2 linked regions of the Homo sapiens genome follow. The protein of the gene in region 1 purifies or fractionates together with the protein of each later gene. This does not show direct contact. Each region holds a gene or a part of one and is shown on either strand. Other genes may lie near its edges.

The links. The genes of interacting proteins can lie anywhere in the genome.
Region 2: the proteins of RIMOC1 (region 1) and NPTN purify together in Homo sapiens (co-immunoprecipitation; one large-scale study listed by IntAct). This does not show direct contact.

Annotation. Positions count from the first base shown.
Region 1 is NC_000005.10:41,907,264-41,910,917, reverse strand, and holds part of RIMOC1 (RAB7A-interacting MON1-CCZ1 complex subunit 1), read right to left. Parts: intron 3,183-3,654; coding exon 3,076-3,182; intron 1,173-3,075; coding exon 1,026-1,172; intron 1-1,025. UniProt on the Homo sapiens protein: Plays an important role in the removal of damaged mitochondria via mitophagy by controlling the stability and localization of RAB7A.
Region 2 is NC_000015.10:73,570,751-73,574,404, forward strand, and holds part of NPTN (neuroplastin isoform b precursor), read right to left. Parts: intron 3,046-3,654; coding exon 2,912-3,045; intron 1-2,911. UniProt on the Homo sapiens protein: Probable homophilic and heterophilic cell adhesion molecule involved in long term potentiation at hippocampal excitatory synapses through activation of p38MAPK. May also regulate neurite outgrowth by activating the FGFR1 signaling pathway.

The DNA.
Region 1 (3,654 bases):
ACACAGGGAGGCCTTATTTTCAATCAATTATAAATATGCAATTCTATTAATACATGAAAATTAAAATAACTTCAATTTACTAGTAGTTTTACAAAATAATTTAAAAAATATTTTTACTAGCAAATTCCCCTAACAGGTTTGCAATATAAGCAGTCATCATCTCATTAAAAAGGTAACTTTTCACAAATACATTACTTGAAGTGAGATCATATCTATTTCTACTACCGCTGGAATAAAATAATGAAAATTTACACCCAAAAATAATTTTAATAAATCAAAATTTTTAAAGTGGCTTGTCATTGAAATTTGGAGATGTTTCCACAGCCTCCCCTGATAAATAAATAGAGAAAAAAAATATATCTAAGTAAACAGTCAGCAGGCAGTTAAAGATGAGAAATTATTTGCTTCAAAGAGTATCCAGGACTAGATATACAAATCATAGGATTATCCAAATAGAGATGACAGTACAAAGCCTGTGAACAGGTTATCAAGCAAAGACAGAATAGAGACTATCGGTGATGAAAGAGACATCCCTGGCTAGTACCTGTGTTTCTAGAATGGAAGGCAGAACAGTTGCTAGCAAGAGAAGACATTTCAGAGATGAAGAAGTGGAAAAGAAGCATGCAGGGTCTCAGAGGGAGGGGGTGATCAACATTAAGAAGGGGAGCAAATGTTCGAGAGAATAAGGACTGTAAGAACAGACGTGGTAATTAGATTAATAGTGACCTTCAAGAAAACAGCATCTGCAAAAGTAAAGGGGGTCGAAATGGGAATATCTATATTAAAAAAAATGATTAGGCACAGCTATTACAATTCTATTATGCAAATATTCTGAAATACATTTAGTAAAATATGATACTTTTGTTGCAACATTGGTCTGAAGTGTTAAGCTCTTTTATCTCCCTCTTCCAATCTTAATTTAAGAAACAAAGATACAATCAAGAAGAAAAAAATATAGACTCCAAAAAGCAGGACAGCAAGTACCAGCAATATTCCATCATAATTAACAGGAATGTAAAACTTACTTTTGGATGCATATTATTTTCCTTTACTAAAATTTCTGGTTCTGAAAGAAAACTAATCAGCTCTTTTACTTTCTGTGAAGAAGAGTCTTCAGGAAAATCTTCATCTACTAGCTTGTTCTCCTCAAAATATGTCATGTCCAAAATAGCCTAAAAAAAAAAAAAAAGAAAGATATCTATCAATGACTTAAAATTGAAAAAAAACAATTCTTACAGTCTAACCTTGCACACATAGGTGCTTTATTACACATTTAAATCTTCTAGCTCAGTATGTAAATTTGAGAAGTAGGCAAAATGTCTAGATGTAAATATAATTTGAGAAAGATTTTAAAGAAAACTTCATAGGTATTTCACTAAAGTGCTGAATTAATGATAATCTTTCTTTCCCTCAAAAAAGAAAATAGAGCTTTGTTTTAATTTACAGAATTTAATCATATATAATTATGAAAAAGGTAATTATTATATTCTACTACTTATATAACCCCTGAAAATTTTCTAAATGCCTGCTGTATCAAGTTAAGGTCACTACTTCCAGTTTTGAACCTTCAAAGGATTTGTGTTCCCAAATACAGAGCCAGCGTGAGGGGCGTATGTATCCTGCCACCCAATAGAGGAAGCATACCATCAACATATGCAACTCAAACACTAAGCCCCCAGTATTCCTAATTATTAGAGATGCTGTTAAAGCATATTAAAACTCCCCAATCCTTTTTCCTTTTTTAATCTATTGAACTAAGACTAAGGAAACTGGGTTCTAGGGTCAGTTCTACCACTAATCACTTAACTAACCAAAGACAAGTCAATTTTACCTTTTTTGAGCCTCAGTTTCTTAATTGGCTAAATGATAAATTGGACTAAAATACCTTTCAAAGTTCCTTGTTGGAGTAAAAAATTAATTAACATATGTAAGGTACTAGAAACGTTACCTAGCACCCAGTTAGTGCTTTACTTTCTGTGAACATGAGGAGTAAATGTTATCGTGCGAAAGGCCTAAGCCAGTAAGGAGAGATCATCATATATGATTTCATCATCATATGAAAGGTGATCTGTTGATTCAGAACCATCAATAGGGTTTAAGAGGATCTTAAAATTGAAATCTGTATCTCTAGGTCTTTTGCCTTATTCCAGTAAGTTAAAATGTCTGGAACACTCTCGTGAAAAAAATGAGATGACATAAAACACATACAGACAAGCACAGAGTCTTCTGAACAGAAAGAAAACCAAGCAAAATACCTGCCAAACTTAAAACAGTTCTCTGTGGTTTGTGAGTAGCTGTTAGGCTTACTCATCCATGGTGTTTGAAGGCAGAAGCTATCTTTAGAAATTTCCTAACAGGAAGAACAGCACCAAGCATTTAAATGCTATAAATGGGCACTTTGGAAGCCTAACTAAGTGTACTGTACTTTCTGTAACCACTTCAGTTTTATTATCCCTTAGCAATCCAAAAAGGGCACATGAAAACACTCTATCAACTACAAAGTGCTATATAGATGTTAGTTACCATAATAAAATTACATTTCTTGATGTTAGCATGCCTCAGCAGTGTTTCAGAAAACCAAGAAAAAAAGGTGTTGTCCACACAGCAGCCTGATTTGGAAAGGAAAGTTAAAAAAAAAAGTGGGTGAATAGAAAAATCACATAGATATGCATGACACTAGCAGGGAGAATAATATTGAGAATCCTAGGGAAGGTAAATTTCAGGGGAAAAAAAAAAAGTCAGGGCCCTTATATACTCCCCTGCTCCCTCTGAAACTTTCAAGAGATTGGACATTGCACACACTAGTGTCCTGTTCAATTATCTCTAAAGGAAAACAATTCCGTTATCTGTAAGATTTTCTTCCTGACTTTTCTTATTAACACATCTAATAAATCTTACTTCTTTTCATACTACCTCAAAGTTTTAAGTTTTTGTGTTTTATTCATAGTTTTTTGGACAAAATTAAACACTTGAAATATAGAATAAACTGATTTCATTTTACCTAAAGTTGGAGTCAATCATCTAAATAAACAACCTGCCCTCATAAAATGCCAGAGTCCACCACTCTTTCAGTACCTGTGTGTAAAGTTCTAGAAGATTTGATGGATTTGAACATTCTTTCTCTTCTCCACACAGGAGTTTCAATTTTTCTAATGCTGCAGAGGCCCGAATTAAAAAGTGATCTATAAGAAATAAAAACATGAGGATTACTTCACCTAGTTTCAGAGTGTTATTTAAACAAAAAACACATTATGTATGAAGATGAAATGACAAGATGAAATAATATTATGACATATGGAGAAACAGAATTATAGTAATAATATCTTATCTAAAACATGAAATATCTCATAATGCCTAATCCTAATTAAGTAAATTTATCATGAAAATTTTTCCTACAAAGCAAAATACTGAAAACTTTCTAGAGTCACTCTTGCCATTTCTTAAATGCAGTCTGTATTCTCATTATGCTTCTTTTATGATAATGCACTCAAAATAATTAAACAAATTTAAAACTTACTGGAATATACAAATAATATACATAAATATACAGAAAGGGCTTCCACTGAAAACTTAAGATTTCATAAATGTAGTTGCAAATGTTATTCAAAAGACCATGATTGACCAAATCAAATTCCTTACAAAATGCCAGCATTA
Region 2 (3,654 bases), on another chromosome or scaffold:
GACGGCAGAAGGAGGGGTACAACCCCTACAGTCAGGCATGCCTCGGGGACCTCAGGCCTCTCTGATGACCTCAGAGTCAGCACACTGACTTCACACTTGGTGAGTTCTGAGGAAGTCTCCTTAAACTTCCTCCACAAACAATGCTAAGAACTCACTCCTAGTCAGACTGGGGGAAATTCATAACTTTCCTTTCATTTAAGGACTAGAGGTTAGAGGAAAGGTTATTCAATCAATCAACAAATATTTGTGGCTGGGCACAGAGGCTCATGCCTGTAATCTCAGCACTTTAGGAAGCTAAGGTGGGAGGATCGCTTGAGCCCAGGAGTTCAAGACTGGCCTTGGCAACAAACTGAGACCCCATCTCTACAAAAAATCAAAAATAAAATTAGCTGAGCATAGTGGTGTACACCTGTGGTCCCAGCTACACAGAAGGCTGAGGCAGGAGGATCACATGAGCCCAGGAGGTTGCTGCACTCCAGCCTGGTAGACAGATCAAGACCCTGTCTTAACACAAAACAAAACAAACAAATAAAAGAGAACAAATATTTACTAAAATATGCTGCATGCTTTATATCCTACTAAGGGCAGGTGGGAGTGAGAAGGTGAGATAGGGAGAAGACAGACCTAGAAATGAATAAGGAGCTTGGCCTCAAAAGGGAACCAGACATCCAAAAAGGGATGACTGATTTCAGGAATGTGTTAAGAAGCCCCAACAGAGCGTGTGTATAGAGTGCTGTAGGGCACAGTGAGTGGCCACTGCTGGAAAGAGTCAGGGAAAGCTTCACACATGAGCTAACATTTGCACTAGACTGTGGAGGAGGACAGCTGATCAAACAGGGAGGAGCAGTGCAGGCAGGGATTCGCATGGGTGTGAAGGCAGAGGTGCAAGAGTGCACAGGCAGAGGTCGGGACTCAGCGGGATGGCTCACTGCACTCAGCTCATGAGATCCCGGCAGGGAAAAAACAGACTCATGTGTCTTTACCCTGCAACAACTAAAGCACAATCAGAAATAGGAGAGAAAAAGGGGAATATTATCCTGGAAATGATTCTAGATATGGCATACAATCTTGTCAGCATTTGAGTGCAGGTACATCTGAAATGGGGAACTCGTAAGCTTTTAAAACAGCTAGTCTGTGATGCCTCAAGCTTCATCTTTCAGATTAAAACACATACTGCGTTAATTCCAACCTGCTTTGGCAAAAGCTCAAGGGCACTCCTTCCCAGTGACCAGCAGAGAGAAGTGGACATTTCCTCTCCAGTGCCTTAGAAAGTTCAGTGTCTTGTAAAAAAGACTCAGCATCTTCACCTCGGCAATCCTCATCCTGCTCCTCGTTAACGGGTCTCTGAAATCATCGCTGATGTTGGAGTCATTATCACAACTCAACATTTTATTATCAAGATGTCATGAAGTAGGAAGAATAATGGACTTGAAATTTAAAAAAACTAGATACAACTCTTGGTTTTGCCACTAATTTATCTTGGCTACTATGGAACCCTTCCAAAGAAGATGGATTAATGATCTTTAAGGTCCTTTTGGATTCTGAAGACTGATAATCAAAGAGGATCCATGGGATCAGAGGAACGCTTGACACGCTCTCTGACAGAAAAGGTAATGGGTCAACAATCATAATGAGAGAGAAAGTGAGGTTCTAAAGCTCTGACTCTCCAAACAACATCATGAATCATCCCACTGATCGGAAAAGATGTTCTCTTTGACATTTTCTGGGGCAAATACCGTCAGGTTCCCAATGTCTAAGGCTGCCAAGGCTGCCCTTGGGCCTCCTCAGGTTGCCCCGATTCCTTATCAGTATGTTCTGTGTTGCAGGAATGTACTAGTAATTGCCCTCAGTACCTTGGGCCTCCTCAGGTTGCCCCAATTCCTTATCAGTATGTTCTGTGTTGCAGGAATGTACTAATAATTGCCCTCAGTACCTTGTTTCCTACTAAAAAAACAAGGCAGGTTCTCTAAGACCACTTCAAAAACAGTATTTTCTTCAGGATAAATGGACGAGAATTAGGCTCGGTTCTTTCAGTGTCCTATCCTGAAGGCAAGTGATATGGTTTGGATTTTGTCTTCACCCCAATTTCATGGTGAATTATAATCCCCAGTGTTGGAGGAGGGGCCTTGTGGGAGGTGACAGGATCATGGGGGCGGATATCCCCTTTGCTGTTCTCCTGACAGTGAATTCTCATGAGACCCGGTTGTTTAAAAGTGTGTAGCATCTCCCTCCTTCACTCTCTTCCTCCTCTCCAGCCACCTAGGACCTGCCTGCTTCCCCTTCACCTTCCACCATGATTCTAAGTTTCTCTACTTACAGGGATCACTTAAGAAGAAATAAACAGCAACTGCAGTCTAAAAAATAGGTAAGTTTCAAGGATCAAAGAAGCCTGAGGGGGAGGCTAATTCTTTGGATTTAGCTTTATCTTAACTATATTACCTGTCAATGCCTCACCTTCAGTTACAGTAATCTGAAAGCAATAAAACTCAAAGCAGGCCAGATGTCACTCTGTTGTCTAAGATAGGAAAGATCATCTTTCCTGTGTTTCCTGAGGCCTCCCCGGCAATGCTTCCTGTAAAGCCTGTGGAATCATGAGCCAATTAAACCTTTTTTCTTTATAAATTACCCAGTCTCTGGAAGTTCTTTAGAGCAAAGTGAGAATGGACTAATACAGTGAGCAATCTAATCTCTTACCAGAGGGACAGCTTTAACAAATCACGTACAGGGATTTTTGTGCTGGAAGAGACTGTCAATGACCTCTTGATTCATGCTGTAAACCGTGACTCTAGAAAGGGTGACCCTCGCCATGCACACATCCGAGGATACAGCTACTACAGTAACTGACCCACGTGTCTGGACCTCTGCAGGGAAAACTCCAGCAACCAGAGACCCGGGCCTGCCTCCTACTCACCATGGGCATCCCGTTCTCCTTCTTGCGCCATATCCAGTCTGGGTGGGGGTAGCCAACTGACTTGCAATACATAGTGGCATCCTGCCCTTCATTCTTGTTCTCACTCCGTTTATGGCCAGTGATGTCAGGAGCGGCTGTGAGAAAGCGTTAGACGCAGTTACCACGGAAGTCTACTCCAAACAGGATACAAAGGCCCCACCTTCTGGCTCAGAGCCCTGCTTGTAATGTAGTCAGTCTTTATGCTTACTGTCATACTCAGCTTTGATGAAGAGCATTTCAGGTCAGAATAGGGTAAAGGGACCAAACCCATCCTCTACCCCCCACCCGCTAAAGATGCCCAGGCAGATACCAGGGTTACTAATATATGAGGCTCTACTAATGTAGGTGATTCTCCAACCTACTGGAAAAGGATGCAGGTCCAACTGCCCTCAATTAAGCCTACCTTTAAAGAAAATGCAAACAAACACTATTATCTCTTCTATCGGCCCAAGTTTTTTCTTAAAACACCTGCATGAACAACAGTTATGCATCCTGTCAAATATCACACATTCCCTTAAGGAAATGAGATTCTGAGATAAAACAACTACAATCAAGTCCTATTACAAGGTATGTAAAAACAATGAATGCTTGGAGAAGCTACTCAATAAGTAACAATGACCAAGGCTCTCCCAGGAAAGAGGGAATCCAGAAACTGGTCTTCACAAGGAGGAAGAAAGGAATGAACAGGAAATTCAACCAGTGTC